Linked DNA regions of Homo sapiens: regions 2 and 3 are each linked to region 1. Evidence: fine-mapped expression QTL. A gene starts in region 1. Each other region holds a variant in brackets. All regions are shown on one strand. Distances are from middle to middle. Region 1 holds the start of LCLAT1 (lysocardiolipin acyltransferase 1). Region 2 overlaps LCLAT1 (lysocardiolipin acyltransferase 1). Region 3 overlaps LCLAT1 (lysocardiolipin acyltransferase 1).

Evidence for each region. PIP is the estimated chance that this variant, and not a neighbour inherited with it, causes the effect.
Region 2: its variant is fine-mapped to the expression of LCLAT1 in whole blood (TOPMed, PIP above 0.99).
Region 3: its variant is fine-mapped to the expression of LCLAT1 in esophagus mucosa (GTEx, PIP above 0.99).

What each region holds. Positions count from the first base shown.
Region 1 is chr2:30,443,325-30,451,509 of GRCh38, forward strand. It overlaps LCLAT1 (lysocardiolipin acyltransferase 1), which reads left to right and starts at 3,922. Exons shown (of 6, transcript NM_001002257.3): 1 at 3,922-4,059. RefSeq lists enhancers at 1-434, 3,612-4,349, 3,653-3,722, 3,763-3,822, 4,033-4,152 and 1 more.
Region 2 is chr2:30,638,829-30,647,013 of GRCh38, forward strand. It overlaps LCLAT1 (lysocardiolipin acyltransferase 1), which reads left to right. Exons shown (of 6, transcript NM_001002257.3): 6 at 1,289-5,397. The coding sequence ends at 1,791. Among named protein-coding and RNA genes, the nearest start is that of CAPN13, 160 kb to the right of the region's middle. The variant G/A (reference allele first, on the strand shown) is at 3,095.
Region 3 is chr2:30,463,369-30,471,553 of GRCh38, forward strand. All of the region lies in intron 1 of LCLAT1 (lysocardiolipin acyltransferase 1), which reads left to right. Among named protein-coding and RNA genes, the nearest start is that of LCLAT1, 20 kb to the left of the region's middle. The variant G/A (reference allele first, on the strand shown) is at 4,593.

The DNA.
Region 1 (8,185 bases):
TTGGATGAGTGACTCATCACCAGGGTTCTAAACATACTTTCTGGTAGTTGTATCTTTTTAGCCTAAGTGAAATTTTGGTCCATCAATATATCAGTTAGGTTTTCACAAGAAACAAGTGACACCCTTGGCACAGAGGGATGATTAAAGAGAGTTGAAGGCTGACTACAAAGGTACAATCAGCGTTAAGGGAAATTAACAGAGGGCAATGAAGTACCCTGAGGCTAGACACAATAAGTTAGGCCATCACACACCCTGTGGGCCCTGCCTAAAGGGACAAGGCGGGGAGTGGGTCCCAGAATCCAGTGAGAGCTGGGCTCTAGACAAGGAGCTGTGGCCTTACGTGAAGTGTTGAAGCCACTGCCACCCTGCAGCCCCACAGGGAGGGAGCCAGGGGAATGCAGCCTTGAGCTGTTTCTCAGCCCACCCTGCAGAGTCCAGCCAGGGCCTCCCATTGGCTAAACCCTGCCAGAGGCAAAAGACCAGGAGTCAGGAGAGGAAAGCCGGACAAGTCAGCATAAAGATGGGGGTGGGGCCGGGCGAGGTGGCTCACACCTGTAATTCCACCAGTTTGGGAAGCTGAGGGGGGTGGATCACCGGAGGTCAGGAGTTCAAGACCAGCCTGACCAACATGGAGATACCCGGTCTCTACTGAAAATACAAAATTAGCCAGGTGTGGTTGGCACATGCATGTAATCCCAGTTGCTCGGGAGGATAAGGCAGGAGAATTGCTTGAACCCGGGAGGCCGAGGTTGTGGTGAGCTAGGATGGTGCCATTGCACTCCAGCCTGGGCAACAACAGCGAAACTCTGTCTCAACAACAACAACAAAAAAGATGGGGGTGGGGAACGGGGAAGGGGAGAGATGGAGCAAAAAGAGAATAATCAGAACTATTAATAATTAGACTCCACAGCTGTTTTGTGCTAATGTAAATTTGTCACTACTTCCAAGCTGTACCTTCTAGCACCAAAACTCCTCAGCTACCAAAGACATGGCTTACTCCATGTCTCAAGAAATTAAAACATTTCATTTCAAATGCCTTTTGAATTTCAGAATCTCGTTGGATGACTGGTGATATTAGGTAATGCTAAGTCTCATTCATAGAAATTTTTGCAAAGAGGGAATTGCAAAAGAAATTTTGCAATTCTTGCTTGCAAGCAATAAACTGTAGGCTATAATAAATGGGCCACTCTGGGCCTCCAGTTAAGTATCTGTGGCCTCTGCTGGCACTGGGCTGCATGTTGCTTGTATTCATTACCTTGGGAGAGACTTGCTCCGATTTTATTGGCGGCAATGTACTTGGCTCTTTTCTGAGGTCTGTTATTGAGCACAGATTTTCCCTTATTACTCTCACATTTTGAAGAGGAGTGAGCAATTACATGGGCATAGAAAGTACCCCAATAATGACAAAAGTACAATAAGAACTAGGACTTGAGATTTCCTGTATGTCATAGTGTGTCCCTGAGCATTACAGAGAGTGCCCTATTAAATGTGACCATTAAGTCAATGGCTCATGAGGTTCAGCAATTCATCAGCTGTGATGCTCTGTTACTGGGGTCAGGAAAGATTGAGAAACTTGTCCCTTTGGGACAGTAGAGCACAGATTAACACCACTTTTTAAGTGTTATATACTACAATGTAATAATAATAGAAATAAAGTGCACAATAAATGTAATGTGGTTGAATCATCCCGAAATCACCCCCTTCACCCTTCACCCCGTTCATGGAAAAACTGTCTTCCACGAAAGCAGTCCCTGGTGCCAAAAAGGTCGGGGACTACTTCTCTGGATGTCTTGATGAAATACATACATTTCAGACGCGGATAAACCCCACAAAAATTCAGGAGCTTGCTACATTGGTGATATTTTAAAATAATTATTTAAAAAACTGGGGGGGTAGTTTTAGACTTAGGAGAGATGTAAAGAGAGTACAGGGATTTTTCCATATATTCTTTACCTAGCTTCCCCTTATGTCAACATCTTGTGTAAGCATAGAACATGTATCAAAACAAAGAATGATCCTGGTACAATAGCATTATGTAAACTATACATCATTTTGGATGCTGAAGTGGTCCAATGATCTTGGGCACGTCAAGACATTTTCCCCAGAATGAAAAACATGTTACTACACCTTGCACCTCTGCCAAAAAGAAAGAAGCATGACACTTAGCAGATCTCTGAGTTTAGAAATCAGCATATTTTGCCCTTGGGAATTCTGTTCCTATCCCTTTAGCAGTTGACGTGGAAGGTGGCTACTGATCAGTAGCTCAGATCAAGAACGGGCTCAGGGCCAGGCGCGGTGGCTCAAGCCTCTAATCCCAGCACTTTGAGAGGCCAAGGTGGGTGGATAGCTTGAGCTCAGGAGTTCGAGACCAGCCTGGCAACATGTTGAAATCCTGTCTCTACAAAAAACACAAAATTAGCTGGGCATGGTGGCAGATGCCTGTAGTTCCAGTTAGTCTGGAGGCTGAGGTGGGAGGATTGCTTGAGTCCAGGAGGCAGGGGTTGTAGTGGGCCACAATCATGCCACTGCACTCCAGCCTAGGTGACAGAGCGAGACCCTGTCTCAAAAAAAAAAAAAAAAAAAAAAAAAGCAAAGAAAAGAAAAAAGAAAGAGCCCAGCACTGTCCTCTGTGGTTAGGGCGGTAAGGGCAACCTTGCCTCTTGGGCTGTATCACCGGACACACCTCACAATGCTAGAGCTCTCTGCAATGGAGCTGCAAAGGCTATGAGGAACCTCCGGCAAGCCCCCAAAGAACCACAGTAGAGCCCTTGAAGGTTCTGGAGCATAGCCAGGCCAACTCTTAACAACAACAAAAAAGAATTGGGAGATCTTTTATTCCAGTAATCTTATTTTAAAGGTAAAAAGGAGGCCTAAAGTCATAGGCATAATTGGCAGAATTGACTTTTGTTCTGGTGTTTCTCTCTGTAGTCATTCTTCACTTTCTGATGCAATTTTAGCACATCTTAAATATTAAAATGTTTTGGAACAAACTTAGAGAAATTATGAAGCTAATTTAGGAAAAGAGCACAAGAATCTTTGATTTACAGGCAATTTGGGGATATAATTTAGCTATATTGAAGCTATGCAGCCAACATGTAGATGGTCATTATTATTACACCATAAATTTTGTGAGGTCAGGAACCTTGTAATTTTAAAAATATTCACTCTGTGCTTTGTTGAATAAACGGATAAAACGTATAGACATACATGAACTACTGATGAGTGGCTGTGTGTGATGTGTAGCTATGTTTATTATTTTTAAGATTCTTATTGTATTTGTTGAAGGCCAAGTTGAGGAGGGAATTGCTTAAGGGAAATGAAAAGGGGTTTAACCACAGTCCCCACCATTCAGGGGCATGCAATCTAGTAGGTTAGGGGACAGGACAGACACACCATGATAGGTGATCGAGACCTTTTAAGAGCAGTGTGATGAAATTGCTATGGGAACTGGGAGGAAACATTTTCTAGGACTGGGGAAACACTGAGTGTGCTAGAAAAACTTTGTGCTCCTGATCAGGGAACCTGGGTTCTATAACTGCTTCTACTACTGATTTGTCCTGTGACTTCGCGCACCAAATTTAGGCTTGTAAATTAAACTCCCAGATTTCTGTTTTCCATTTTGCAGCTCTAGGGGTTGAATGAACCATTAGGTTCCCTCGGACAAATGACCTCCGCTAATTTCCTATTTCGTTGTTTTCTCACCCCTACACCCCACCGTTCCGTGGGTCCCTCCTCTCCAGGAGGCCAGACGAGGAAATAAGCGAGGCCTCTTTAAAGGAGCTCTCAAAGAAAGGTACCCGGGGTATCCCGGGCTGTGGAGCAAGCGCGGGGCGCCGGGGACCCGGGTTTCCCACGCAGCCGGGGACGCCGTTGCGTCACGGCGCCTGCAGCCAATCAGGACGTAGCCTTCCGGGACGCATTACTAGGGCGACGGCCGGACGCCTCCGCGTTACGGGATGAATTAACGGCGGGTTCCGCACGGAGGTTGTGACCCCTACGGAGCCCCAGCTTGCCCACGCACCCCACTCGGCGTCGCGCGGCGTGCCCTGCTTGTCACAGGTGGGAGGCTGGAACTATCAGGTGGGGTTACGGCGCGAGGAAAATGGCGGCGGCCGGGGGATCTCAGAGGTGCAGGAAGGGGAGCTGCAGCCCGGGCTTTTCCTCCTGAGCCATGGACCTTCCCCGGGCCGCGACCTCGGGTAACGGCCACTGGCCTGGCATTTGGGGTCCCGGTGCAGGTGGCGGTAGCGTCGCTGGCTCAGGTGGAAGGAGGCGCGGGGAAGCGACTCCTGGAGGCTGGCTGAGGCGTCAGGTGCTGAGGGGCCGCGCGAGCGGCGAGGGCGAGGTAGCCGCGGGGCGAAGAGGGTCCCGTCGGTGTTTACGCTAGGAGCGTCAAAACCTTCCTCCTGCGACCTCAGCGGGTCTGGGAGCTGCACTGTCCCGGAACGCAACCTGAGGTCTGACCCTGTTAAATCCCATGCACTAAAACGTCTCAAGTGGTCACCACGTGCGGGGCTTCGACGAGAGCCGTGGAGAGCAGGGGCTGGGGTTGTCTTCCCTGCGAGTCCTGCAGGCGCCAAAGGCCTGCCTGTAGGTGCCAGAGTGGCAGTGCCGCGAAAAGAAAGGTAGGCCCTAGCCAGGGCGGATGCCAAACCTGATCTTTAAGGTGTATCGTAGCTTCTAATTGCCCATTTGAAGAAAAGAAGTTGAAAGATAAGGCACTTAGATGTGGTTGTGGAGATGTTTTGCTTTCTTGTACTTCCCTGGTTCAGGTGGCTTCCCTGGAAATACTGCATCTGCCTTTAAAGTTCATTAACTGTGTTTCTTGTGTACATGGCAGTAGATGAGATTAGGGATTGAAGTCACTTTAAGTCCAAGAAAAGTATTGAAGATATGTGTTGAAGGCATTACCAAGATGAAATATTTATTCATATCATTAACTTATTTGTTCAAAGAAACGTCATCTCATGAAGTATAACTACGTGGGTTAGTTTTCAAAAAACTGACTTGATGAAAGCCCTTTTTGTAAAACATATTTTTTGAGAGTAAGTAAAAATACATCATCACTTTTTCGTTTAGGTTTCTGTTGCACATTGTACTTTGATATGCTTGATATGACAGATAAGCATAATGTTAACTGACTTTTGTTTTTGGTAGTAGGCTTGATTTTATGGAGTAGTACCTTGTTCTGTAACTGAGAAAAACGTAATAGCGCTTGTGTTTCAGTCATCAATAGCTGCAATCTCTGGAGTGCCAACTATGTGTCAGTTTCTGTGAAAGCTAGGCTTCTCCTACTTTTTAATTTGAACACATGGTCGTCTGCATCTGCCCCCACCAGGTCTTTAGGCTGGCTGTTGCTGACAACCAGGAGGAAGCAATGGGGAAAACCCAAAAGATTCTTCCAAACTGGATCCATGGAGATTTGGTCAGTTTGTCCTGGGGTTGAGGTTATGGGTGGATTCTAGTCCAAACTCTGCCACTTAAAAATATCTTAGGGTAATCATACAACTTCACTATTGGTGTCTTATCTCTAAAGTGAGTATTTCTTATTCAAACAATCTCATTGCACTGTTGGGAGGAAAAAGAAAAGACAGTATGTGTGAAAGGGCTTTAAAAAGTTAAAAAAACAGTGAAAATATTTGAAATTTATTCCTCTGCATTCATGTACTCTGCCAGGCACTGAATCCGGGGACTTATATGTGCCAACTCAGTCATCTAGCATCACTGTGAGGCGGATACATTTATTATCTTTATTTTGCAGATGAGGAAACTGAAGCACATTGAAGTTTAAGTAATTTGTCCATATCACACAATTAGCATTGTGTTTCCAGCCTGTGTTCTTACTGTCTTACTACCACCATGCCTACTATCTTCCTATGACATACAGATGTGTTATGTATTAAGGGGAAACATTAATTCATGTACAAATTTTTCATTTTTAATATATATATTTTTCTTTTTCAAAGGCTCTAGCAATGTCCTAGAATGAACACATATTTCAAGCCAGTAGTTTTGTTTGTGATCTTGTGTAAATAATAATCATGGTTTATTCCATTGGCGTCCAATAGTGATTTGTGTGGTAACAATTACATTTACTTTGGTTAAGTGGTATATTCTTCTTACTTGTGTTGCCCATTAATTAAAAAGTTATTTTGAAACAGAGTTATGACTAATTTCTTTTTTTTTTTTTTTTGAGAGGGAGGTTCGCTCTTGTTGCCAGGGCTGGAGTGCAATGGCACGATCTCGGCTCACCACAGCCTCTGCCTCCCGGGTTCAAGCGATTCTCCTGCCTCAGCCTCCTGAGTAGCTGGGATTACAGACATGTGCCACTACGCCTGGCTAATTTTGTATTGTTAGTAGAGACGGGGTTTCTCTGTGTTGGTCAGGCTAGTCTTGAGCTCCCGACCTCAGGTGATCCGCCTGCCTCAGCCTCCCAAAGTGTTGGGATTACAGGTGTGAGCCACTGTGCCTGGCTAGTTATGACTAATTTCTATCAGGAAGCACAAATCAATAATTGGGATTTTTGTTTTTATTACATTTTTTAAAAGAATAATTTGCTGGGGGACTTTTAAAAGAAAACTGATTTTAGTTAAGCTTGTTGTTTTGATATACTTGTGCTAATTTTTCCAGTCTTTATTTATTAATAAAATAGGATGAGTAAAAGTGGCTAGGACATTTATTGTTTCATTGAACCTTTATGGAATAGCCCTGCCAAGTCTTTAGGATGTAAACATTAACTCCTGACCCTACCCTTGAGGAGTTCAGGGAGAAGTCCCAGGTCCAGAAGTTTGTAGACAGTTGAGACAAATAAATAAATGATTAACTAATAAAGCATGATAAGGACTCAAATATAATTGTGGGTACAGAGACCTGTGAGAGCACATAAAAGGGAACAGTTACTTCTTCTGGGATGGGCCTGGCCAGAAGAGGAAGGGAGCTAACTGGAGGATAAAGGCGTAGGGAGAAACAGAGCAAAGCTAGGACAAGTGAGAGCTCATGGTGTCCAGGGGTCAGACCACAGTATTACAGGTGTTGCTGGGAGAGAAGCCAGGAAAGGTTAGAGCCAGGTTGTGAACTCTTAGCTAAGAGAGTGGGAACTCTCCTGCGGGCAGTGGGAACTGTAGAAGGATCTCGATTAGATGCATAGCTTCCACTTTATGCTACAAAAATGCTAGGATAATGGGTGTTAGAATTTTTTTCTTTTTACTTTAGGTTTTGAATATATTTGTACAGAAATCATTGTAATATGGAAGTAATCACTGATGGTTTCTCTAGTTTTAAAGCTGATCTCCACTTAAACGTGTGTAACACTAAAGTTGTCCAGCACCTAACAACATAACATGAATGCAGTGCAAATCGACTACAAGGTAGGGTGTGCAAATCTTGCAAAAGATGCAGGATTTCATGAAGTCAAAGCAAGGGGGAGAACTGCTGAAACCATAAGCGCAAATAAAGGACTAGTGCCTGGAATAGGCAGAGATTCTTAAAAAGGACTCAGAAAGCAATGATCATGAAAATGATTGATAAATTTGTCTTCAGACTTCTTTAAAATTGGAAACTTCTCTTCATCTGAAGACACCACTAAGAAAATGAAGAGCAAAATATGGACCGGAAGAAGAAATTTGCAATTTATATATCTGACCAAGGACTCATACCGTGTGTGTGTGTTTATTTGTGTGTGTGTAGCATAAACAAAATTAATGAGAAAAATCATTTTAAAAATGCATAGATGTCTTGAACAGGCACTGTCTATTAGAGGGTCTCAGAATGGCCAGTATGCACATAAAAAGGTACTTAACATTATTTGCCAGTGGGAAATATAAATTAAAACAATAATGAGATACTGCTATACACCTTCCAGAATAACTAAAATTAAAAAGATGGACAGTGCCGGTGTTGACAAGGGTGTAGACCAACTGGATCTCTTACATATTGTTGGTGGGGGCCAGTGTTGGCAAGGGTGTAGACCAACTGGATCTCTTACATATTGTTGGTGGGGATGTCAAATGGTACAGTCACTTTGGAAGACTGTGGCTTTGTCTACTCCTACCCGTGATCAAATGCTTGCATTCCTAGGTATACTCAAGAGAAACTAATGCATGTTAAACTAAAAAACATGTTAAAGAATGTTTATAGTGCCTTTATTCATAATCAAAAATTGGATATAACTCAATTGTACATCAGC
Region 2 (8,185 bases), 200 kb after region 1:
ACATCCAGTTGGCCACTGTACGGTGTCACATCCGTTCTTCCTTGTAACTTTTTTGGACATGTCTTTTTTGGCCCCTACGTCCTCTCCATTTCTTGCCTGCTGTATTGTAGTAGCCATCAAACTATTCTACCTCTTTTGCCCTTGGTCCTCTCCAAACCATTCTGGTCACTGCCCGCAGAGAGTAATCTTTGCTAAAATGAAACATATGGGTTCCTTCTGTCTGAAATCCTTAAGTAGTTCTCCACCATGTAAAATGCTTCTCTGCCACCTACAGAATTGAGTTTAAATTCTGAAGAATAACATGGGGTCTTGGACCACATGGCTCCTGCCCACTTTTAGTGTTCCCATCCCCACTGTGCTTTTCTGCCAGAACATTTGCTCTGCCACTACCCCACCTCATTCCTCTCCTTTACTAACACCTTACGTGTTCCCATAAGGTCTATTTAGGCCTTTATGCATGCCTGCCTCCCCAGTTACGTTGAGAACATCTTGAGTGAGGTTTAGGACCATGTCTTACTTGACTGTCTATCTCCAGCATCTAGCACTCTGGCCTGTTTAAGTGAAAACACTTTACCCCCTAAGTTAAATTCAGGATGACAGGATACAGGATCAGGGTCTTACTTGGAGTTCAAGTTTATTTATCTATTTATTTTTAAAGATGGAGTCTCACTGTATTGTCCAGGCTGAACTCCTGGGCAATAGCGATTCTCTCACCTCATCCTCCCGAGTACCTGGGCTTACAGGTGTGTGCCCCTGTAGCTCAAGTTGATGTTTTTTAAAATAAAAAAGTATATGGTAGTTTTCACATGTTTCTCACCACCTAAGTCTGATTTTAAGTTAAGTTTTTCTTTTCAGTAGCTATCGTGGTAACATTGGGTTAAAGGTGAGAAAGTCTACTTTTATTTGGAGAGATGGCTATATTAATAGGAGGTATCAAAACTGAATTCTATTGGTGTTTAAGGAGCTAGCCCTGTAATGTTTAATTCCCATCTCAAATTTGAGTTAATGTGCTTAGTAGTTTTAGAATGGCAGATTACTGTTTCTGCAAATGAAGATATTTTCTTTCTAAATATTTTGTGGTAATTAGCAAGCAGGAAATAAAACTAAAGATGACTGGTAAATATTGACCCAGGTGTCCAGGAACACCAGTATCTCTAACCCTTGTTTGTTCATTGTGGTTCACACTGTCCTGATTTTTCGGTTTCTGGTGCTGCCCTGCAGTGTGAATCAGCATTATCACCCAAATTGAGCACTGCTTAATCTATGTTTTCATCTTTTCGAAACCCAGGTAAGAACCTTGATGCTGTCCATGATATCACTGTGGCGTATCCTCACAACATTCCTCAATCAGAGAAGCACCTCCTCCAAGGAGACTTTCCCAGGGAAATCCACTTTCACGTCCACCGGTATCCAATAGACACCCTCCCCACATCCAAGGAGGACCTTCAACTCTGGTGCCACAAACGGTGGGAAGAGAAAGAAGAGAGGCTGCGTTCCTTCTATCAAGGGGAGAAGAATTTTTATTTTACCGGACAGAGTGTCATTCCACCTTGCAAGTCTGAACTCAGGGTCCTTGTGGTCAAATTGCTCTCTATACTGTATTGGACCCTGTTCAGCCCTGCAATGTGCCTACTCATATATTTGTACAGTCTTGTTAAGTGGTATTTTATAATCACCATTGTAATCTTTGTGCTGCAAGAGAGAATATTTGGTGGACTGGAGATCATAGAACTTGCATGTTACCGACTTTTACACAAACAGCCACATTTAAATTCAAAGAAAAATGAGTAAGATTATAAGGTTTGCCATGTGAAAACCTAGAGCATATTTTGGAAATGTTCTAAACCTTTCTAAGCTCAGATGCATTTTTGCATGACTATGTCGAATATTTCTTACTGCCATCATTATTTGTTAAAGATATTTTGCACTTAATTTTGTGGGAAAAATATTGCTACAATTTTTTTTAATCTCTGAATGTAATTTCGATACTGTGTACATAGCAGGGAGTGATCGGGGTGAAATAACTTGGGCCAGAATATTATTAAACAATCATCAGGCTTTTAGCGACAAGGAACACACACATTTTTCTTAAAGGCCCAATCCTAACAGACTCCCCGTACCAGAGGCAGATCTGGAACTCGTCAACAACAGCCCGGATCACATGCTGTTACTGGACTGCCCAGGTCACCTCATTGAGGTGAGCGCTGTCCCTCCAGGTACTCAGGCAGGTGGTGCCCAGGCTCCCTCCCTTGGCGTCCTTCTTCCTGCGCCAAACCCATCTCATCCTTAAGATCAGAAAATGGAACCCCCTTTGTCGTGAAACCGATCAAGCATTTTGACAGGAAGCCCTTCATTATTCATAACATTGTATGCTGACCAAGACGTCAGAAGACCACCTGTGCCCTTTTCTCTCGTGGAAGATAAAACCTGGACTCAGGGAGCAACCACAGGCTCTCCACTTTGAAACTTTAGTTTGAATTTTAAAAGATAGGAAGTAATACAGTTTAAGTTCCTTTCTCACACTCAGTATTGCATGCTTAGTGCTGGTTTTCTTACAACATTTTGGCAGGTGTAGCTTTTTCTGTTAAAAATGGTATACATGAAGTCACATACTTTTTTAAAGGAACACTCAGAACATTCTGTCATTCCAGTCAGAAACTGTCTTTTGAAATATTTCTTTACAACCTACCAAAAAAGGAAGGTTGTTTTTTCTACATGTGCTTGGGTATCTAACATCTACCATTAAAACAACAAATGGCTTGCAGACAGGGCAGTAATGGTTTATCCTAAATTACTCAACCCCTTGTAGCCTTGACAAATTTTACCTTAAAACCAAAATGAAACACAAAAATTAATCCTTAATAATGATAGCAAGTGATCTTTCTTTTTAGTTTTAGCCTTCCTTTTTCAATAGTAATATTTAAACCCACTTTTGACCAATTGTTTGCCCAAATATTCTTGTCATTTGGAGTCAGTGGAAAATCCAGCACACCAAGCACCAGTCTTCTTCTGAGGCAAAAGAAAAGTGTTGTCATTTTCACTCTGTTGGAGCTGCACACTTTTTTTTCTTTTTTTTTTTCTTTTTTTTTTTGTC[G/A]TGTAAGAAGGATGCTGGTCAGAGCTGCAGAAAATATGAGGCAATTAAAAGTCTTTAGCTGTTAGCAAACCTGTTAGTTTTACTTCTGCATTGAACCAGCCTCAGAAGCTACTTACTGCTTTATGTACTCTTTGGGCATTAATGCCTTCTCTGTAATTATATCTCGTTTTTGCTTGACAGTGACCTACCCAATAATTGCATCGTGCATTGCCATGAAAGGTAAACACATTGTGAACTGAACTTACCAAGCAGATTCTGTGAGAAAGCACTGGTTGAGGCTGAACACTGTTGACACATCATTTTTATTGGAAGAGTATTAACTGGTGCCTCTTCTGAAACACACCAACCCATATTCCTCTGCTCCCCCAAAGCTGTTTCTGATCCTGCTGGGAGCAACTAACTAGTTATTATGCACATCTGCTCCAGACCCAGCTCTTTAACTTCATGGTTTTACAGCTTGTTTTTTCTTTTTCTTTTCTTTTTTTTTTTTTTTTTTTAAAAAAGCACCTTTTTTTGTTGTTTCCCCTTAATAAAAGAGGTTTCTAATTTATGTTTCTCTAAGATTTCCTTTGGTTGTATTTAGAAACACAAATAGTTTTATAATCAGGATTGCATTTGTGCTGGGTAAAAGAGGAGAGCTGTGCTTTCTACCCCAAAGTTGTTGGTAATGGAGCCGGTCTGCCCTTCCTACAAACTCAAGAGGCTCATTGTTCAAGGTGTAACAACATTTAATTGCATGTCCTCTAACGCTTTGAAACCTTTAGAGGGAAGATCCTCATTTTTTACAATTTTGTTCCTTTTCATCATAGAAAACATGTTTAAGATAAAATACAAACTTTACCTACCCCAAATTCATAAAGTACATTTAGTGCTGTATAGCACTAAAACTTAGAGATACAGACACTGTACTTACTTTTTAAGAATTAGAGACAGTAACTCCAAAAATAATTGTCCTTTTTTCTTTCTTTCTTTTTTTACAATAAGGCTCTTGAAAATTGTCATTACTTGTGTTTTCCTATACATTCATCTGTGTGAAAGCCTTTTTCTTCTTTGATTTAAAAAAATTAACTATACAGTTAATGGTTTAGAACTTAGAACTACTTAGAATTAATGCTAAAGTGTCAGGAAGAAATTAATTTAGCTTCAATAATTGTGACTGGCCTCAGGAATTCTCCCTTCCACACCTGCCCACCTCACCTCACTGCACCGCACCGCACCAGAGCCAGAGCAGCTGCTTGTCTGCAGCAGGACACAGTTCCTACATACGTTTCAGTTCTTTCATGGTAAGCTCAATGGACTTTGAATTGTTTACAGTGCTGTATGTCCAATTGTTAAATGTACCATTCTGAACGATGTTAAAGCAAGTGTGGTTTATTTATGGCATGAACCATGTAACTTGAAATATGAACTTACAAGGAGGGGCACTCATTAGGTAACAAGTTCTTACACCAAACTTCCTTGATGAAATAAGCCAAAATAATCCTAAAATTCATTAGAAGAACTTGATAAAAGACTCAAATAAATGTTAGAAAGAGCCCGTAATTTTAGGACTCCTATAAAATTCTTCCTTGTTTGTTAATGCTATTAAAACTCAGATTCAAGGGAAATACCAGCTTCCACTTGAGTCACTTTGAAATAGTTAATTCAACAGCACCATGTTAGAAATATATTGGCAGCCAAGACTCTGAACTCTGCAGAAACATTTGTTTCACCCAGACTTCAAACTCTAGCCCTGACTATGATGCCCCTGTGTGCATTTACAATAAAGACTCCAACGGAGGGAGCCTGTTGGTGTTAAATTGTTTACATTTCTTTATACAAATAATGTGCTTTCAGTGCCTTAGTTACAGCTCCCTTTCTGTTTCTTGTTCCAAGGATTCTGTAGTATGTAGTGTGTTTCTTAGGTAAAGTCTCTTTTTGCTACTGAAAGGGAAATGGTCTCTAAACACTGGTCACTGTAGCAGGTAAACACTACTCTAACGTGGAGAAATGAGCTTCATGCTGAGGTAGTGGTTGCCTTAGAGCTGTTATTTATGCTGTAGAAAACGAAAATGGTTTTGCTACCTGATAAGCTTCAGATTAGATATAGCCCTAAAGTTATCCTGTACCTGCATTAAATTTTCATTTTAGAAGAGAATCTTGGTTTTGGTAATTCATTTTTTTTTAAGATCATTATGTGCAAAACACCAAGTTTTAAAAATAACTCACAGAATGGCCTTAGTTTTCAATGTCTGATGGTATATTTGTGAGTTGTGTTATCTGTAATATACATCCCAGAATAAAGGAGTGAATTAAATAGTTTACATGTGTGTTACGTTCTGTTTTTGCAGGAATAACAAGTAACTGCAAGTTAAGGTGCTACTTTTTTCCCCACAATGCCTTGCATTGCAGTGTCTAGTGTTAAGGAAAAACCTGGCCAGTTAGGTCTCTTTTTTCCACAGATGTCAAGAAAAGTGGCCTAATCAAGAAAACAATGTACTACCTCCATAATAGGAAAAGTCCAGGCACCACAATTGAATTAAGGACTCAACGAATGTCATCAGAACTTGATTTTCCTCCATCTCTTAGCACAGCCTTGCTATTGAGAACAATTTGGTTGTTCCACAAATGTGGGATCTTATATAAATATCAGCATGACCAACTCTTACCTAAGATAAGTGGGACTCTGTGCTCCAGTCCCTGACCTCACGTTGGGGAGTATATAACTATAAAAGCAAATCTTGGACCAAAATCTGACAAATGTATAAAAATGTGCTTAGCAAACAGACAAACACATGAGAATCACGGAGCCTCTTGTAATGGGGCCTTCTGCAATGCCCCACTCTGTCTTCTCAAGTGAGCACTTTGTGTGATAGATTCATGTGGAGGGGAGTCCACAACGTTGTTCCCTGGGAAAGGGGAATGCAGGACCAGAAGAGCACAGACCCGGCCCCAAGAGCGCCAGTCCCACAGACTGGGACATTGGGTTTGTGGGACTCCTGTCCTCCGTTTAAGCAAAAGGAAGAGAAGGGTTTTGTTTCTCACCACCTACTTAGCTTCAGCATTATTCATTTCACTGATAAATTATATAAAAGGCTTAAGCAACCCTCTCTGGAGGGTGGATTTCTAGTGAGGGCTTCAAATTCCAGCTAGTATGTCCTGGGATGGACATAAGATACTAATCCACACATATACAGTGCACCTTCATACTGATATTTTTAAACTAAATTACTAAAGAGAACTTGTGCTGTCCTTGGCTTGATTTGCAGGATCCATGTAGGGTGGCATGGTGCCTGCAGCCACTTCAGCCCTGCATCCTCTCAGGTTCAAGTCCAGTGGGAAAGAACAAGAGAGACTGCTGTCCCTATGGCGCAACAGCAACCCCATATTGGGTTTCAGTGCCCATTCCTGGACCAGTCAATTGCCCAGATACATGATGTGTGTTACAGCCCTGGGTTACTTGCGGAGCCTGTTGAGTAACCTGGACAGCATGGATGGGGGAGGGATGACTTTTAAGACAAAAATTAAACACTTGTTATCAAGAACAGGATGAACTGACGCTGGATGGCCAAATTACCACAAATGTCCACCACAACTATCAAATTTCCCAGCCTCCCAGTGGAGAGAGGACTGGGAGGCTGGAGCAAATGACTGTGATTTCCTGTGCAGTGAGAGGCATCAAGAGGCTGAGCAGCCTTGTCTATCCACATCAGGGGTTACTTGGGAACCTAAGGGTTCTCCATAGCTGTGTCTGGACAATCTCATCAACAATTGGTCCATCTGAATTATTCAGTCATTGCCTCCACAGAGATCAGTATTGAGAGCATTTCCTTATGGGAAATTTCTTGAAGTGTAAATACTACAGCTCTAATGGCTCTCCCTGTTGGCAGAGGCAGTTCACATTCTCCCAGTGCTGCAGGTTCAGAATATTGCAGCGTCCCTCCTTCCTGGACACTCAAGCTGTCACTACCACCCGTGTCTTCCTCTTCAGGGCCCTTCTTACTTGTGTTCTGCACACAACTATTGCATCAGACCTGGGCAGGTCTGGCAACATCCAATCAGTTTCCTGCTCCCACATTCTCCCGATGCCAATCCTGGTGCACTGGACTTGTTCCTTGATCATACTGCAACACCAGTTTTATCATGGAGCTTCCCTTCTCATAATGCAGTGCTTCCTACCAACTGCTGGACAGTCTAGACACCTCTGCCTCCCCTGGGTCCTCTAGCCTAGGCTTAACCTTGTTTCTAGGCATTTTCTCCTGTGCGAACCTTTTCATATGAGCACAGCTGGTTGCCCAAACCTCCTCATGTCCCCTCTCCCTTTCCCAACTTTGCACATATTTCTCATTTGTGAAAGGTGCTTTCTTAACCAGCCCGAGTCTAGTTGAATCCCACTTTTTCTCTGAAGCTTATCCTGTTCAATCTAGCTTGAAATGTCCTCCTCCTATCATGGATGATATTTCTCTGCAGCTCTCGCTTGAGTGTATTACAAGCTGTCTTATGTTACAGTTATTTTTCAATCTTATCACCTCCATTGGATTATAAGCTTTCATTTCTCTTATCCCAAACAGTGTTCAGCCCAGCCATTCTTTTTGCACAATACATTCTTAATGATGTTTGCTTGAAGTCATTCATAAAGCATCCTGTTTGTTTTAAATGAAAGCTGGGTGGAGAAGTTTACAAATTTAAAATTTAAAAATTTTTTTAAATTTTTTAAATTTAAATTTAAAATAAAATAAAATTTAAATTTATTTTATTTTTTTTTTTTAAAAAGGCCAGGTGTGGTGGCTCATGCCTGTAATCCCAGCACTTTGGGAGGCTGAGGCAGACGGATCACCTTAGGTCAGGAGTTTGAGATCAGCCTGGCCAATATGGTGAAACCCCATCTCTACTGAAAATACAAAAATTAGCCAGGTGTGGTGGCGGGCGCCTGTAATCCCAGCTATTCAGGAGACTGAGGCAGGAGAATCACTTGAATCCAGGAGGCAGAGGTTTCAGTAAGCTGAGATTGTGCCACTGTACTCCAGCCTGGGCAACACAGCGAGACTCTGTCTCAAAAATAATAATAATAATAATTGAAGTGCAAGTCCATCTACTTCTGGAAAATAGATT
Region 3 (8,185 bases), 20 kb after region 1:
TTTCTTTTTTTGTTTTCTCCTTTAATTAAAAACAGAGTCATTCATTATTTTGTAAGTTGCTTTCTTCACTTCACGGGTCATGTCTACCTTTCTGAATGACTGCTTATGTTAATGTATAGTCAGCCCCTCTGTATCCACAGGTTTTGCATTCATAGATTCAACCAACCATGGATCAAAAATATTTGAAAAAGAATTGCCTCTGCACTGAACATGTACAGACTTTTTTCTTGTCATTGTTCCCTAAACAATATAACTATTTATATAGCATTTACATTGTATTAGATACTATGAGTAATTTAGAGATAAAGTATTTTGGAGGATGTGAGCAGGCTATATGCAAATATGATGTCATTTTATATAAGGAACTTGTGCATATGTTGATTTTGATGTCCTCAAGAGGCCCTGGAACAGATCCCCCATGGATATTAGATGACTGTGCTTCACTTTTTAAAAACTGGTTGCATAATATTCCAGTTATATGGCTATGCCATAATTTAACCATTTCTCTGTTGATGGACGTTTATACTATTTCTAATTTTCACATACAAATAGTGCCTCCGTGAGCATTTTTATCTTTTCTTACTTTTATGAGTACTTTTGTAGGATAGATTAGAATGAAATTATTGTGTAAAAATGTATATGTGTTTTATAATTTGCCAGCCATGCTGAATTTGCCTTTTAAAAGGGCTCTATCAGTTGATTCTCTTAGCAATTGTATGTTTGAGGCCTTATTTTCCTATGCCCTCACTTTGCTGGATACTATCATTGTCAAATATGAAAAAGTAATTGGAAACATGGTGTCATGCTACATATTAGTCTGATTTCTTTCCCTTTTTTTTTAGTGTTCATTTTTGTATGTGACTCTTGATTCTTGGCCCATTTTCCTATTGTAATTCTATAATGTTTTCATATTTTACATGTAACTCTTTAATTCATCTGGAATTTATTTTGATTTTATGGAATGAAACTGCTTGATTCTGGAGGAGATTCAAGGGCTAGTGGGTCTTGAAATTGTGTGTCTGGAAAAATTTAGAGGATAAAAATAAATTTTGCTGCCTTTGGAAAGTAGTTTGTCTCAAATTTATTTAAAAACTTAGTTTATTATTACCCAACTCTATAAAGTATGTTGGGGCAATAAGAAAATCTTGCCAACAAAAAGACCCCTTCTTACCAATGTAGAAGAGAAAGAACGCTCTGTTTTTATTTGCATGTCAGATACGTGCAGATAGGTAGTTTGAGACTACAAAATTTGAGCAGAATTTAACTCATACAGTGAAACAGACAAAACTTCTCTTGTATTCTTGGGGCAAATGGATATACCCTGTGATAGTTTCCTGTGCACCTGATGAAATTCCCGAGTTAATTTCAGTGGTGTTTGTTTGCAGTGTCTAGGGTCAGAAGGCCTATGACCTTGTCATTGTAAATCTGGAGACTAGGATAGTATCTAATTCCTGACGAAAAGGCTTGGCCTATTAGGGTTTTTTTGTTTTTGTTCTTTTTAAATTTTTATTTACTTTTTGTTTTATTTTTTACATAGAGATGGAATTTTGCCATGTTTCCCAGGCTGGTTTCAAACTCCTGAGCTCAAGCAGTCTGCCCACAAAGAGCTGGGATTACAGGCATGAGCCACCATGCCTGGCCAGGCCTGTTAGGTTTTTAAAGAGATCCTCTGTGGTAGGCTGAAAATGGTTCTCTAAAATATTCAAGTCCTAATCCTGGAACCTGTGAAATGTTACCTTGTATGTTAAAAAAAATGGTTTTTGTAATTAAATTGAGGATCTTGATGTCTAGGGCACTTATCCTGGATTATGTGAGTGGTCCCTAAAAGCAATCCTGTGTATGTTTATCAAAGTGAGGCAGAGGGAGATTATACGTACACAGAGGAGGAGGAGGCAGTTGGACCAGGAGGTAGAGATTTGAGTGTTAACGGCCACAAGTCAAGGCATTCCCACAGCCATCAACAGCTGGAATAAGCAAGGAACAGATTCTCACCTGGAGCCTTTGGAGGGAGTGTGACCTTGCTTTTGTTCTAATGATACTGCTTTCAGACTTTTTTTGGCCTCTAGGAGTGGAAGAGAATAACTTTCTGTTTTAAGCCACCAAGTAACTTGTTACAGCAGCGATAGGAAACTACTGTACACCCTAAAGACAAAAGGGCTGTGCCCCTTTTATTAAAACAAGAAAGATTCATTCATTATATTTACTATGTTAATTATTGTGAATAGCACTTAATTCTTATCTACTCTTTGCTAATCACCGTTATTTATTGGTTCTCAGTGTTGAATAACAGGCTAAACACTCTACCAAAATGACATTAAAATGAAAAGTTAACCTCAATAGTAAAGTTAATAAGGAAATATTTTGACTTTTTTTAAGCCTGGAAAGTGAGTAATTTAGAATCATTTATATTATTTTGAGATTTGCTTTTGAATTGAGGACAATAAAGTGTATTTATTTCTCTTATTAGTGAAGTGGCATGAAAGAACAAAAGTCTTCTTTAACAGAAAGAATTTCAAGTCCATTGCATTTTGTTAAAACTTTCCCCAAATTTTATTTTTTTCAACCAAGTGGTAGATTATATAACTAATGTTACAATTAATTTTTTTCTGATTTTTTTTACTGACATATAATTTCTTATATTTTTGATAAAGTAACTCCTTAGAGTTGTCTAGATGAGTTGTATTTTTTCAGTTTGCTGACAAACTATTTTTCTTGCTTTATTAAAAATGATTAAATTTCCTAATTCTGCTTTTACCTATTTGATAATTCTTTATTTTATTAGAATTGTTAGGACTTTGTAAATTTTTTCATAAAGAACCAAGCTCATTTTAAAGTTCCGCTGTTTTTTCTGTGTTTTCTTTTTTTCTTTTCTTTTCTTTTCTTTCTTTCCTGCTTTCTTTTTTTTTTCTTTGAGACAGGGTCTCACTGCCACCTAGGCTGGGCTGGAGCTCCTAGACTCAAGTGATCCTCCCACCTTGGCTTCCCAAAGTGCTGGGATTGTAAGCATGAGTCAATGTGCCTGACCCTTTCTGTGTGTTGTTATCTAATCAATCATTTTTACTGTCATCCATATTTCTATTTTTGTTTTTTAATCACACCTTTTATTTTAAAAATTTGACTGCTTGATTTTAAAATTTGCATTGCTTAGTTTATGTTCTGTTTATTTAAATACTATTTTAGAAACTATTTCAGTACAGCTTTGTATGAATCCTGTAACTTTTGATATGCGATGTCTTTATATTTTTTCTAAATATTCTGTTGCACTGGTTCTAAACTTTGGTGAATATCAGTCTCAGCTGGCAGGCTTATTAAAAATGCAGATATTCCAATTCTACTTAACACTGGGTATAGGGCCTGAGCTTCTGCATTTTTAACAAGCTCCCCACCCCCTGGTAATCTGGATTAACATCAGCATATGGGAACTACAAGTCTTATATATTTTTAATTTTTTCATTAATTCAACAGTTATTTAGGAAGGCTTAAGAATTTCAAATCTTTAGGGTTGTTTGTTTTGAATTACTCTTAGTTTTATTGTATTATAATCAGAAGCTTGCCCTGCAAAATTTATTTTTTATTTTTTTTAAATTATACTTTAAGTTCTAGGGTGCATGTGCACAACGTGCAGGTTTGTTACATATGTATACATGTGCCATGTTGGTGTGCTGCACTCGTTAACTCGTCATTTACATTAGGTATATCTCCTAATGCTATCCCTCCCCTCTCCCCCGACCCCACGACAGGCCCCGATGTGTGATGTTCCCCTTCCCGTGTCCAAGTGTTCTCATTGTTCAATTCCCACCTATGAGTGAGAATACGTGGTATTTGGTTTTTTGTCCTTGCAATAGTTTGCTGAGAATGATGGTTTCCAGCTTCATCCATGTCCCTACAAAGGACATGAACTCATCCTTTTTTATGGCTGCATAGTATTCCATGGTGTATATGTGCCACATTTTCTTAATCCAGTTTATCATTGATGGACATTTGGGTTGGTTCCAAGTCTTTGCTATTGTGAATAGTGCCACAATAAACATGTGTGCATGTGTCTTTATAGCAGCATGATTTATAATCCTTTGGGTATATACCCAGTAATGGGATGGCTGGGTCAAATGGTATTTCTAGCTGTAGATCCTTGAGGAATCGCCACACTGTCTTCCACAATGGTTGAACTAGTTTACAGTCCCACCAGCAGTGTAAAAGTGTTCCTATTTCTCCACATCCTCTCCAGCACCTGTTGTTTCTTGACTTTTTAATGATCGCCATTCTAACAGGTGTGAGATGGTATCTCATTGTGGTTTTGATTTGCATTTCCCTGATGGCCAGTGATGATGAGCATTTTTTCATGTGTCTGTTGGCTGCATAAATGTCTTCTTTTGAGAAGTGTCTGTTCATATCCTTCGCCCACTTTTTGATGGGGTTGTTTGATTTTTTTCTTGTAAATTTGTTTGAGTTCTTTGTAGATTCTGGGTATTAGCCCTTTGTCAGATGAGTAGATGGCAAAAATTGTCTCCCATTCTGTAAGTTGCCTGTTCACTCTGATGGTACTTTCTTTTGCTGTGCAGAAGCTCTTTAGTTTAATTAGATCCCATTTGTCA[G/A]TTTTGGCTTTTGTTGCCATTGCTTTTGGTGTTTTAGACATGAAGTCCTTGCCCATGCCTATGTCCTGAATGGTATTGCCTAGGTTTTCTTCTAGGGTTTTTATGGTTTTAGGTCTAACATTTAAGTCTTTAATCCGTCTTGAATTAATTTTTGTATAAGGTGTAAGGAAGAGATCCAGTTTCAGCTTTCTACATATGGCTAGCCAGTTTTGCCAGCACTAGCACCATTTATTAAATAGGGAATCCTTTCCCCATTTCTTGTTTTTGTTAGGTTTGTCAAAGATCAGATGGTTGTAGATGTGTGGTATTATTTCTGAGGGCTCTGTTCTGTTCCATTGGTCTCTCTCTCTGTTTTGGTACCAGTACCATGCTGTTTTGGTTACTGTAGCCTTGTAGTATAGTTGGAAGTCAGGTAGTGTGATGCCTCCAGCTTTGTTCTTTTGGCTTAGGATTGACTTGGCAATTGCCCTGCAAAATTAATTGAAATTTCCATTGTGGTCATTTGTAAATGACCTCCACTGTGGATAGTTGGGAAAAAAAATAGCCATTTGATATATATCTGTTTTTTTTTTAATTGAGGTGAAATTTACTGTACAAGAAATTAAGCATTTTAAAGTGGACAAATCAGTGGCATTGAGTACATTCATGTGTTGTGCCACCACCACTGCTGTCTAGTTTCAAAACATTTTTATCACCTCAAAGGAAACTGTGTACCATTAAGCAGTTGCTCCCTTCTACCCAGCCTCTGGCAACCACCAGTCTGCTTTCATTTCTATGGATTTGCCTATTCTGAATATTTCATATAAATGAAATTATGCAATACGTGACCTTTTGTGTCTTCTTCACTTAGTATAATGTTTTCAAGGTTTATTTAACTCTTTGAGAAACTGCTATTTTACATTCCCACCAGCAATATATGAGGGTTGCAAATTTTCTGCATCCTTACCAATGCTTGTTATTTTCCATTTTTAAAATTGTGCCCATGCTAGTGGGTATATAGTGATATCTCATTGTGGTTTTGATTTGCATTTCCCCAATGATGTATGATGTTGAGTAGCTTTTCTTATGCTTATCAACCATTTGTATGTTTTCTTTGGAGAAATATCTATTCAAGTCCTTTACTCATTTAAAAAAGTTATTTGTCTTTTTGTTGTTGAGTTGTAAGAGTTCTTTATGTATTCTGGATACTAGACCCTTGACTTGTGAATTTTTCTTCCATTCTGTGGGTTGTCTTTTCATTTTCTTGATGGTGGTCTTTCACGTGCAAAAGTGTTTCATCTGGATGCAGTCCAGTTGATTTTTTTTTTCTTTTGTTGCTCATGTTTCTGGTGTCACATGTAACAATCCCTTGCCAAATCCAAGGTTGTGAAGATTTACCTTTGTTTTCGTATAAGAATTTTATAGTTTTATCTTTTGTGTTTAGGTTTTTGATAGATTTTGAATGAGTTTGAGGACACCTTCCTTCTTTTGCATGTAGCTATCCAGTAGTATCATTTGTTACAGATATTGTTCTCTCTCCATTGAATGGTCTTTGCACCCTCGTTGAAAATCAGTTGGCCATAGATGTATGGTCATAATTCTGGACTCTCAATTAATTGGGCTACAGGTCTCTTCTTTTTTTTTTTTTTTTTTTTTTGAGACGGAGTCTAGCTCTGTCACCCAGGGTGGAGTGCAGTGGTGTGATCTGGACTCACTACAACCTCCGCCTCTGGGGTTCAAGCGATTCTTCTGCCTCAGTCTGCTGAGTAGCTGGGACTACAGGTGCCCACCACCACACCTGGCTGGGACTACAGGCATGTGCCACCTGTGCCCAGCTAATTTTTTGTATTTTTAGTAGAGAGCCAGGATGGTCTCGATCTCCTGACCTCATGATCCACCTGCTTCGGCCTCCCAAAGTGCTGAGATTACATGCATGAGCCACTGCACCTGGCCCTAATTTTTGTATTTTTTAGTAGAGATGGCGTTTCGCTGTGTTGGCCAAGCTAGTCTCAAACTTCTGGCCTCAAGTGATCCACCCGCCTCAGCCTCCCAAAGTGCTGGGATTACAGGCATGAGTCACCACGCCCAGCAAGAATCTGCATCTGATTGGTTGGGTCAGGAATGAAATCACACGAGTGTCAAAATGGTCTTGTGTGTCGAGTCAGTTTCGGGTGGGGGTTACAGGGCCAGTTGAGTCAATTTCATGGTATGAGTAACCCAGGTGGCATCAGTTGGTCCACCAGAACACGAGGTCTGAAAAATACCTCAAGAATCAGCCTTGGGTTTTACAATAATGAGGTAATCTATTGGGGTAATCGGGGAAGTTACAAGTCTTATGACCACTGGCTAGTGACTCCTGTCTAGTAAGTAATTACAAAAAAGACAAGTTAGAAAATAGTGTCTTGTTATTATTTAACTATGCTTAAGTCTTAGCAGAATTCAGGCTCCTACTGTAATTCTGACCTTGTGTCCTTTTGTTATTTTTTACAAAGATGGTTTTGGTCTCTAAACAAGGAGGGGGTTAGTTTTGGGAAAGGACTATTATCATATTTGCTTTAAAGTTAAAATACAAACTAAATTCCTCCCATAGTTGGCTTGGCCTATGTGCAGGAATGAGCAGAGACAGCTTATGAGGTTAGAAGCAAGATGGAGTCAGCTACGTTAGGGTTTTCTCACTGTTATAATTTTGCAAAGGCAGTTTCAGTACCACATTGTTTTGATTACTGTAGCCTCTTAGTAAGTTTTGAAATTAGGAAGTGTGAGTCCTCCAACTTTGTTCTTTTTCAGTGTTGTTTTGGCTGCTTGGAACCACTTGGAATTCCATTCATATTTGGTGATTGGCTTTTCCATTTCTGCAAAAGTTATTGGAATTTTGATAGAGATTGAATTGAGTCTGTAGATTGCTTTGAGTAGTATTGCCATGTTAATAGTATTGTCTTTTATTTATTTATTTTCATTTTATTTATTTATTCATTCTTTTTTTTTTTTTTTTGAGACAGAGTTTTGCTCTGTTGCCCAGGCTGGAGTGCAGTGGTGCGATCTTGGCTCACTGCAACCTCTGCCTCCCGGATTCAAGCAATTCTCTGCCTCAGCCTCCCGAGTAGCTGGGATTACAGGCGCCCACCACCACGCCTGGCTAATTTTTTGTATTTTTAGTAGGGACGGAGTTTCACCATTTTGGCCATGCTGATCTTGAACTCCTGACCTCGTGATCCACCTGCCTTGGCCTCCCAAAGTGCTGGGATTACTGGCATGAGCCACTGCACCCGGCCTATTTATTTATTTTCTAAGATAGAGTCTCACAATGTTGCCCAGGCTGGAGTGCAGTGGTGTGATCTCAGCTCACTGCAACCTCCGCCTCCCGGGTTCAAGCGATTCTTCTGCCTCAGCCTCCTGAGTAGCTGGAACTACAGGTGTGTGCCACCACACCTGACTAGTTTTTGTATTTTTAGTAGAGACAGGGTTTCGCCATGTTGCCCAGGCTGGTCTTGAACTCCTGACCTCAAGTGATCCACCCGCCTCAGCCTCCCAAAGTGCTGGGATCACAGGCGTGAGCCACTGTGCCTGGCCAGTATTGTCTTTTAATCCCTAAACCTGGTATATCCTTCCATATA